3 separate regions of the Homo sapiens genome follow, and regions 1 and 3 are each reported to be linked to region 2. The links are microRNA targets in miRTarBase. Many come from high-throughput screens and were not tested one by one. Region 2 holds a microRNA gene; each other region holds the end of a gene's coding sequence.
The links. Region 2 holds the annotated microRNA hsa-miR-486-3p (CGGGGCAGCUCAGUACAGGAU, at 1,311-1,331, shown strand). A microRNA usually pairs through its seed, bases 2 to 8, with sites in the 3' UTR of a target mRNA and lowers its output. Matches are read on the target gene's strand: a 7mer-m8 pairs with bases 2 to 8, a 7mer-A1 pairs with bases 2 to 7 and ends in A, and an 8mer does both.

Region 1: miRTarBase lists MRPL34 as a target of hsa-miR-486-3p. Seed matches in the 3' UTR shown: 8mer at 959-966.
Region 3: the mRNA of STRN4 is a reported target of hsa-miR-486-3p. Seed matches in the 3' UTR shown: 7mer-m8 at 1,365-1,371.

What each region holds. Positions count from the first base shown.
Region 1 is chr19:17,305,695-17,309,034 of GRCh38, forward strand. It overlaps MRPL34 (mitochondrial ribosomal protein L34), which reads left to right and starts at 178. Exons shown (of 2, transcript NM_023937.4): 1 at 178-263; 2 at 472-1,149. The coding sequence starts at 199. The coding sequence ends at 685. RefSeq lists enhancers at 122-201, 3,172-3,340 and a silencer at 432-491.
Region 2 is chr8:41,658,774-41,661,773 of GRCh38, reverse strand. MIR486-1 (microRNA 486-1) reads left to right here and starts at 1,266; the gene lies at 1,266-1,333. ANK1 (ankyrin 1) reads left to right here. Exons shown (of 43, transcript NM_000037.4): 42 at 210-344. The coding sequence ends at 308. MIR486-2 (microRNA 486-2) reads right to left here and starts at 1,330; the gene lies at 1,267-1,330.
Region 3 is chr19:46,717,961-46,721,300 of GRCh38, reverse strand. STRN4 (striatin 4) reads left to right here. Exons shown (of 18, transcript NM_013403.3): 17 at 530-765; 18 at 963-1,790. The coding sequence ends at 699. It overlaps LOC107987269, which reads left to right and starts at 1,579. Exons shown (of 4, transcript XM_017027568.2): 1 at 1,579-2,655; 2 at 2,799-2,948; 3 at 3,325-3,340. The coding sequence starts at 2,238. RefSeq lists an enhancer at 2,892-2,941.

The DNA.
Region 1 (3,340 bases), not on the chromosome of region 2:
GCATCCCTGTGCCCCGCGGATATAGACTGGCGCGCCTCTGTTGCGCAGGCGCAGAACTACAACTTCAGGGTTTTCCCCAACGGCCTCTTTTTTGCACGTTAGGAGAAACTACATTTCCCATAATCCTTTGTTCCAGGGCTGGAGCGGCTCTGGGCTCCGGAATCGCCCGCAGCCGGTACTGCGGGACCCACTGCGGATATGGCTGTCTTGGCTGGATCCCTGTTGGGCCCCACGAGTAGGTCGGCAGCGTTGCTGGGTGGCAGGTAAGTCCTCAGGGGGACCCTTCCCCAAATCAGGGAATAAGGGCGGCTTCGGAGGCTGGCGCCACTCTTCACTGCCCGCGTGACCTGCCAGTGCCTTGCGCATTTTGCAGCCAGGCTCTGTCTCCGGGAGCCGAGGCTCAGAGAGGTTGAGCGCCAAGGTCACCCAGCGCCCCGTCTGACCTTTCTCGCCGTCCCTCTACCCACGCAGGTGGCTCCAGCCCCGGGCCTGGCTGGGGTTCCCAGACGCCTGGGGCCTCCCCACCCCGCAGCAGGCCCGGGGCAAGGCTCGCGGGAATGAGTATCAGCCGAGCAACATCAAACGCAAGAACAAGCACGGCTGGGTCCGGCGCCTGAGCACGCCGGCCGGCGTGCAGGTCATCCTTCGCCGAATGCTCAAGGGCCGCAAGTCGCTGAGCCATTGAGGATCGCGACGCAGTCGGCGGGACCCTCATGGAAGCATCGCCCTCGCCTCGGACCTTGCCTGGCGCTATTTTTGCAGGGAGCTGGGGAGCAGGAACGCCTCGGACCTGAGTGCTCTCCATATTGTGGGGTTGAAGTCTGGATGGGAGCTTGCCAAGTCCCTTTTTAGGCTTTTTAATTAGGAAGCATTTCGAACCTGCGCAACAGACCAAAGAACAGTACAAAGAACATCCGTGTACCCAGTACCCTGACTACCGACTACCTACAACCCGTCCCTGCCCCATCCTGAGTTCTTTTGAAGCTGATCTCAGGCATCGGATTATTTCTTCTGTAAATATTTCAGAATGTATCTCTCCAAGATGAGAGCTCATTAAAAGACAATTACAAAGCTTATCACATCCAAAAGAATTATCAATAATTTTGAAATATTATTAAACGTGTAATAAATGTTCAAAGTTCCACTTGCCTTATATGTGTCATAACTCTTTTTTTTTTTTGAGACAGTTTCCCTTTTGTTGCCCAGGTTGGAGTGCAATGGGGGGATCTCGGCTCATTAAAACCTCCGCCTTGCGGGTTCAAGCGATTCTCCTGCCTCACCCTCCCGAGTAGCTGGGATTACAGGCATGCGCCACCACGCCCGGCTAATTTTGTATTTTTAGTAGAGATGGGGTTTCTCCATGTTGGTCAGGCTGGTCTCGAGCTCCCGACCTCAGGTGATCCGCCCTCCTCTGCCTCCCAAAGTGCTGGGATTACAGGCATGAACCACTGCGCTCTGTCCCCCAGGCTGGAGTGCAGTGGCACGATCTCGGCTCACTGCAAACTCCCTCTCCTGGGTTCAAGCAATCTCCTGCCTCAGCCTCCCGAATAGCTGGGATTATAGGCGCCCACCACCACACCCGGCTAATTTTTGTATTTTTAGTAGAGACGGGGTTTCAACCATGTTGGCCAGGCTGGTCTCGAACTCCTGACCTCAGGTGATCTGCCTGCCTCGGCCTCCCAAAGTGCTGGGATTACAGGTGTGAGCCGTCATGCCCAGCCTGTGTCATAAATTTTATAGGTCTGGGAAGACTGGTGGAAAACTGTGTGTGTGTGCGGGGGGGTGTTTGTTTTTGAAACAGGGTCTCGCTCTGTCACCCAGGCTGGAGTGCAGTTGTCGGATCCCTGCTTACTGCAACCTCTGCCTCCTGGGTTCAAGCAATTCTGGTGCCTCAGCCTCCCAAGTAGCTGGGATTACAGGTGCATGCCACCACGCCCAGCTAATTTATGTATTTTTAGTAGAGGGGAGTTTCACCATGTTGACCAGGCTGGTCTTGAACTCCAGCCCATAAGGAGTTTGAATCTTCCACTTGTCCCTTGGGGATGTTTGATTTTGAGCAAGAATTTAACACTGTGAGGTGCATTTGTCGCCTATAAAATGCAGTGCTGGTTTCTCCTCTGCTCTGTTGCTGTTGGAGTAATAATACTTAGTAGCTTCCACTTAGCAACTTCACTGTGCAATTGCTGTGTGCTGGGTGCCCATTCTTTGCCCTGGAAGTCAGGAAGGCAGTTTGGACACAGAGGTGTCAGGGCTGGGAGGGGGATTGTGAGGGCTGTAGGACTTCAGGGAAGGTACCTGACTTGCCTTTTTGAAGAATGCAGTCAGGGAAGTCTTGGAGGAAATGGCAAGGTCTGGGAGAGCCCAGACATAGAAGGAATTGGTTAGAGGTGAGGACACAGGTGGGCAATGAAGACCGCAGGTGCCCATAAATGGGGCCAAGGAGGTGGGATTGAATACTAGGGAGTTACGGGAGGTGGTTGAGCAAGACGGTGTCGAGGAGGAGCTAGGGAGTGTTATGGTTCTTATCTTCTAGGGCTGCTTTAAAAACGTAATAAACACAAGAAGATGCCGGCACGATGGCTCCCAGAACTTTGGGAAGCCAAGTCTGGAGGATTGCTTGAGGCCAGAAGTTCGAGACCAGCTTGGGAAACATAGCAAGACCCCTGTGTCTTTTTTTTTTTTTTCTTTTGAGAGGGAGTTTAGCTCTTGTTGCCCAGACTGGACTGTAGTGGCTTAATCTCGGCTGACTGACACCTCCGCCTTCTGGTTTTAAGCGATTCTCCTGCCTCAGCCTCTTGAGTAGCTGGGATGACAGGCGCCCGCCACCACGCCCGGCTAATTTTTGTATTTTAGTAGAGATGGGGTTTCACCATGTTGGCCAGGCTGGTCTCAAACTCCTGACCTCGTGATCCGCCCGCCTCGGCTTCCCAAAGTGCTGGGATTGCTGGGATTACAGGCGTGAGCCACCGTGCCCCGCCTTTTTTTTTTTGAGACAGAGTCTCCCTCTGTCCGCCAGGCTGGAGTGCAGTGGCGCGATCTCAGCTCACTGCAAGATCCGCCTCACTCACGGTTCACGCCGTTGTCCTGCTTCGGCCTCCGGAGTAGCTGGGACTACAGGCGTCCGCCACCACGCCCGGCTAATTTTTTGTATTTTTAGTAGAGACGTGGTTTCACCGTGTTAGCCAGGACGGTCTCGATCTCCTGACCTCGTGATCCACCCGCGTCGGCCTCCCAAAGTGCTGGGATTACAGGCGTGAGCCACTGCGCCCGGCTGGCTTTTTTTTTTTTTTTTTGAGACTGATTTTCGCTCTTGTTGCCCAGGCTGGAGTGCAATGGCACG
Region 2 (3,000 bases):
ACCCAGCGCCATCACTGCTGCCTTGCTCTGCCGGGCCGTCTGCATGACACCTCCCTCCACTCACCTCTTTATGAGCTCTCTCTCCAGTCTCTCTTCTCCCTGGTGGGCAGTGTGTCTGCCACCTCCGTGTGGCCTCCTTTCGATCTTCTGCCTGTGTTCTGCCCGTCTTTGCGATCTGTCCTGCTTTCTGTCTCTGCTGCTGTCTGCAGGTGGAGCTGAGAGGGAGTGGCCTACAGCCGGACCTGATAGAGGGCAGGAAGGGGGCGCAGATAGTGAAGCGGGCCAGCCTGAAAAGGGGGAAACAGTGACCCCGAGCCGCTCTCCTTGGAGTAGCCTCTCGGGAGGTAACGCTGCCCTTCTCATCCCCTCTGCATGGCCTGGTCTTCAGTGGAGTGGCTGCTCCCTGTCTCACCCTATCCCCTCCCAGCCACCCCAGCATGATGTGGGACAAACAACTTGTTGTTGTGTCTCGAGGCAGAGATTCTCACTTCCCAACCCTGCTAACAGTTGGCTCTGAACCCCAGCTTCCTCATCAAGGAAACAGAGTTAATAATATCCACTTATCAGGGACCGCACGGTTTTGTAAGAATGCCTTTTGGGCCGGGCACAGTGGCTCATGTCTGTAATCCCAGCATTTTGTGAGGTCGAGGCAAAAGGATTGCTTTAGGCCAGGAGTTCAAGACCAGCCTGGGCAACAGAGCAAGACCCCATCACAAAAAAAAGAAAAAAAAAAGCCAGAAAGAAAAAAATGCTCTTTGAAAAGTAAAAGCACTCTGTAAATCTAAGTGGTAATATTATCTTGGAAACCAAGCAATGGGGATCTAGAAAGCAGTGGACAGGGCATTGAAGAGGACAGGAGAGTTGGTCTGGGCTGTGATGCTTCAACATAAGAGCTCCAAGACTGAGGACTGGACTGTCTCTTGAACCTGGAGCCCAGCTACAGTTCTCACCAGGCCAAGGCTTAGCTTCTCTTTGGTGTTTTGTGAAACACGTTGCTCCCTTGCTTTCTAGGAAAGGGCTGAGCCGACAGGCCTAAGGGGTGGACGACGTGCTTTCTGCAAGTCAGGAGACCGTCAGGGTTGGGGCCGGGGCCTGGGCTGTGGTGCATGTGTGTGAGCATGGGGCAGTGTGGCCACAGAGCAGGGGCATGCCGTGCCGTGCCGTGCCATGAGGAAGGGACATGAAGACGCTGTGCGACCATCTCCAGCAGGTGTGTGTGGTGCTGGGGGCTTCAGCGGCCGGCTCTGATCTCCATCCTCCCTGGGGCATCCTGTACTGAGCTGCCCCGAGGCCCTTCATGCTGCCCAGCTCGGGGCAGCTCAGTACAGGATACCTCGGGGTGGGAGTCAGCAGGAGGTGAGGGGGCATGGTGGCCCCAGTGCAGCACTAACCAGGCCGTTACCATTCACACCCCAGGGCCTGACTCTGGGACCGAGCAGCAAGGAGGCTCTAGCTTTCTGCATTCGGCAAAAATCAGGGCCCGCTGCCTCCTGAGCCACCAAAAGTGCTGACTCTGGGCTTCCCAATATATCTCAGCACTTGGGCAAAAAAGAGGACTGGCAGATCCAGTTATAGGATAAAATTAGACCTGACACCTCAGCAGCTTAAGGAGGTCACCGTGTTAACCCCTGCACTGCCAGGGGTCCCACTAGGCTGCTGGTTTAGAAGACTCTGAGTAGCTGCTGTTGGGTCCTGGAAAGAACCCAAAGATGCAAATAATGTTTAAAAGCAGCAAAGGGAAAGGAAAAGTACACTTTTCTGACTTATTTTTCTTATGGTAGCAGTGGCGGCTGTGGCTTTAAATTTCTCTTTGGCTCAGGCTCTATGGATGCTCCTGAGTGGGAGAGAGGCAGCCCGAAAGCCAGGCTAGGGGGAAGGAGGGAGCCTTGAATTTCATTTTAATTTGCCGTAAGTGATCTGCAATGTGGCTGAAGCCCCCCAACCTCAGGTGATTAAGGACCGGACCACACTAGCATGGGTGTCAGAAACACGGAGCAGCCTGGCTCTGGGACAGCACTTGGCCCTCTGTCAGTGACAGGCACAGGGACAAGTGTGAGGGTGGCAGGGGGGTGGGGCGGTGGGGCGAGAGCAGTGGTGAGGGAGAGGCGGAGAAAAGCTCCTGCCAAAGTCCCAGAGGGTTAGGGGACAGCATTAAATGCCCTACCCTCCCAACCAGGGCAAAGGCTACAGAGAAGACGGTTGAGGGCCCAAAGGCTTCCTAATTTACTATCCGCATCCCCGACAAGCATGTACAGTCGATCCTCATCATTCACGGATTCTGCATTTGCGAATTCGTCCACTCGCTAACATTTATCTGTAGCCCCAAAGCTGGCACTCACCGTGCTTTGGCTCATTCATGGACACACACACAAGGGCAGAAAGTTTGAGTCGCCCAACCCGTGCAATCCCAGCTGAGGATGAACAATGCCACACTCTGCCTCTGTGCCTCATACTATAAATAAGTGTCCTCCTTGCAGCTTGTGTAGTGCCACATTTTTCACATTTTTGGTTTCATTGTTTAGAATGGCCCCTGAGGGCAGTGCTGAAGTGCTGTCTGGTGCGAAGTGCAAGAAGGCTGGGATGTTCCTTAAGGAGGGAATGGACATCAGATAAGCTCTGCTCAGGGATGAGTTAGAGTGCTTGTGGTGGTGAAGTCAGTGTTAATGAGTCAACCCTATATATTACATAAGGCGTCTTGAAACAGAAACGCATTTAACACAAAGTTATGTATTCATCAGTTGACCAAAATATTGTGGCCAGAGGCTCATGGGAGCCTAACCTTGTATTTCCCTTAGGAGCAGTGGTTCAGTATTTGCTAATTCCGTGTTCACAGCGACTATTTATTTATTTATTTATTTATTTATTTATTTATTTATATTTTGAGAGGGAGTCTCGCTCTGTCGCCCAGGCTGGAGTGCAGTGGCACTATCTCGGCTCACTGCAACCTCCATCTCCCGGGTTCAAGTGATCTTCCTGCCTCAGCCTCCTGAGTAGCTGGGA
Region 3 (3,340 bases), not on the chromosome of region 2:
CTTGACCCTAAATTAAACTTCTCCTCGCCAGGGCCCTGCCCAGCCTGCCGTCCTCTCCCCTCTTCTCCCCAAGTCCCTGCTAAGGCTCTTGTGGCCACCCCCACCTCCTGCCTCAGGACCTTTCCCGCCTGTCCTTCTGCCTGGAAGGCTCCCTGCATTCCTCCTGGGGCCATTCTGTCCTCACACTGACCGGCTGGGTTGCTTTCTTCTTTCTCTTCCTGTTGCCCAGCTGCAGCGTCAGTGCTGCGGGGCAGGGAGAGTTGCCTGTTTTGTTCACTGCCCCTGCCGCCCTGGGGCTCAGTGTGCAGTAGCTGCTCAAGAAATGCTGGGGGATGAGATGGACTGTGGACAGGAGGGGACCAGGGTTCTCCTTTGGGCGGGCCACAGGAGGTGATGAGCAGAGGGTGAGAGAGGAGAGTTGAGCCCCACTTCCCCTGAGGCCTTTGGACAAGGCCAGGTGAGGGGTTCCAGGGCTGCGTCTGAGCGAGGAGCCCAGTGACCACCCCTTCTGTCCCCGACACATGTGCAGGCCATGACTGCTCCCTGCGTCTCTGGAGCCTGGACAACAAAACGTGCGTGCAGGAGATCACGGCCCACCGCAAGAAGCACGAGGAGGCCATCCACGCTGTTGCCTGCCACCCCAGCAAGGCCCTCATTGCCAGTGCTGGCGCTGATGCCCTGGCCAAGGTCTTCGTATGATGCCCACCTGGCCCTGCCCTGGCCGCCACGCTGGCTGGGGTGTAGGGCCGGGCAGGTGGGGCTGAGGTGAGGGCAGAAACCCCGCATTCTGAGTCTCTGCACGCCCATGCCTAGTACTGCCAGGTGTGCTGAGCCCCGCAGTCCAGTCAGGGGCGTCCTGTGAGAATCACTGGGGGAGCCCTGGGCATGCAGGGGAGGGGTTGAGGCCTTAGAGGCGCCCTAGAGGCGGCGGCTCAGTCTCCCCTCCCTTCTCTTTCCCGCAGGGGACTCCCAGCCTCGCTGGAGGTGCAGAGGCCTGGCCTCTGTCTGTTTGCCATGGAGCCTGGTGGTGCTAACGGCCCTTTCCCCAGGAATCCCTCCCCAACGGCTGCCTTCCCCAAGCATCCAGCCTGGGGATGGGCCCCTTTCAGGAATCACCCCCGAGGATGGCCTCGGGGTTTCCCCCTGTGCCCTGACAGCCGCTCCTGGTATCAGAGCTGCTTTCCAGAGGGCAGCACAGCCAGGGCCGGGTGTCTTTAGGGATCAGTTTTTCCAAGACTCCAGAAGGTGCCAGGTTCTCCCCTTGAGCTCCTGCTCCCCCATCCCCCATCCTCCCAGACCTGGGCAGGAGCTGTGCTGGGAGAAAGGGTGGCAGCCGGGAGCCTCAGAGCTGAGCCCCGGCCTGGCTGCCCCTCCCCTCCGGCCCTCTCCACTGCTTTCCAGACACTAACCAAGGCTTCCAGGCCAGGGATTGCCCAACACTCCTAGGGCAGCCCTCCCAGCGCCCCATGGGGTCGCCCATGGGTAGAGACGGCTTTCTTGTGCCCCTCCCTGGGGCATGGAGGGTGGAGTGGGCCTCGGGTCCCCCTGAACTCCCTGTATATCTGTATAAATAACGGGATTTTCATGGCGCCGCCCCACCCGCATTATCACTGTGTGATGGTCTCAGTCAGTCTCCTCCCTGTCTCCACTCTTTCCCTCTATTTATTTCACTCTCTTGTTTGGTTCTACCCTGCACCCTCGGTCCCCTTCCAGGTTCCTGTTTATAAGCCCCAACCCCTCTGTCCCCATCTTGTATGTGAAAACTTGTCTCAATAAACCCTTTGGAGTAAGATGGGTGACGGTGCCATCTGTTGAGGGCACTGGGGACTTTGGGGGAGGAGTGACCGGCTCTGCCTGGGTTGGGTGGAGTTTGGAGAGAGGGGATATGATGGGTTGGGGTTTTGTGGTAGGGCAGCAGGGGCCGGAGACGGGCCCAGAGCTTGGGTGGGGTGTGGGTGGAGAGAAGTGGAGGCACTGGACCGAATCTCCTTGTGCCCTTTCTGTCCCTAAGTGCTCCCTCCCCAGGGGTAGAGCCCTGGGGAGCAGATACTATGATGACAGTCCAGCTGAAGCCTCAGCCCCGCCTGGGATGTGTGAGGGTGGTGGCGAGGCCAAAGGGCTGGTGCCCAGAGGACGTAAACCCCCTTCCTGTTCCCATCCCAGGCCCACAAGGAGCAGGGAGGGAAAAGGCTGCACCTGCCAGTGGAGGATGATGGCTTTGGGGCGCAGGCTCCTCCATGCTGGGAGGAGGTGCCGCAGGTGCCCGAGCCCTCGTGGCTCATGTCCTGATGCGTCCCTCCTTTCCCTTCTCAGTGGTCCACGTCTACTGTACTGAGTGCTTTACATGGCATTTCACTGGGTCCACAGCCTTAAAAAGAGGGAGCAGGTGTCCACATGCTCCAGATGAGACGGAGGGGACCGCTGCTCCTGTCTCGAGGAGGCTTCCACCACCTACCAGCCAGGCGTCCTCGGTAATCCTAGCACCTCTGCCACAGGGCACTAATGCCCAGTTCCTGGGTTGTAAAGGGCTGTGCCCCAGTCCCCCAGCAGGCCCCAGTGAACATACGAGAAAGGATGGAGGCCGCTGTCTGGACACTCAGGACATGGCAGCGTTTTGCTGGGACAGTCATCTGCCCTTCAGGAAAAAGGGTGCAGGTGGGCAGGAGGCCCTTAGATGACGCCAAGGGGAGCCTTCGTGGGCTCCACGTGGTGTGCTCCCTGCCCATCCCTCTGGGCTCAATGCAGTTCCCCAGGTGGTGGTTTGGGTTTTCACTCCAGCCTCAGACTTCCTTCCTCAGCCCCAGCCCCCGGATGTGGTGACAGAATCGATACTGTACCGACCTCAGCTACCCCCAACGGCCGTACACCAGGAAGAGGGGCTCTTCTGGCAGCCCCCATCCTCAGCCAGCCCTGCCATTTCCAGTCCTGCCAGCATCCCAGCCAGACAGGTGGCCCTTCTCTTAGAGCTCAAACCTAGGCCTTGACTTGTCAATCAAAGGGGTGGGTGGGGCAGCTTCCCTCAAGCAACTTCACTCTGGGATCTTGGGCAAGACGTTTTGCTTCTCTGAGGCTTCAGCTTATTCTGTGTAAACTAAATGGTAGCCACTATTTGATTATTAGCTGGGGAGGAGAGATCAAGCCTGACCCCTGTAGCGGCTGGAGTTTTACAGCAGGGCCCACCCAGCACCCAGTAGGTCCTCACAGATACTTGCTGGGTGACTGAATGGGTGTGCCCACCCATCAAAGCCTGAGTGCTGGAGGTGGCCACCCCTTTCCGCGTATTATCAGAGACAACCACCTCTTACTGAACTGCTGCGTTTCCAGGCACCAGTATACCATG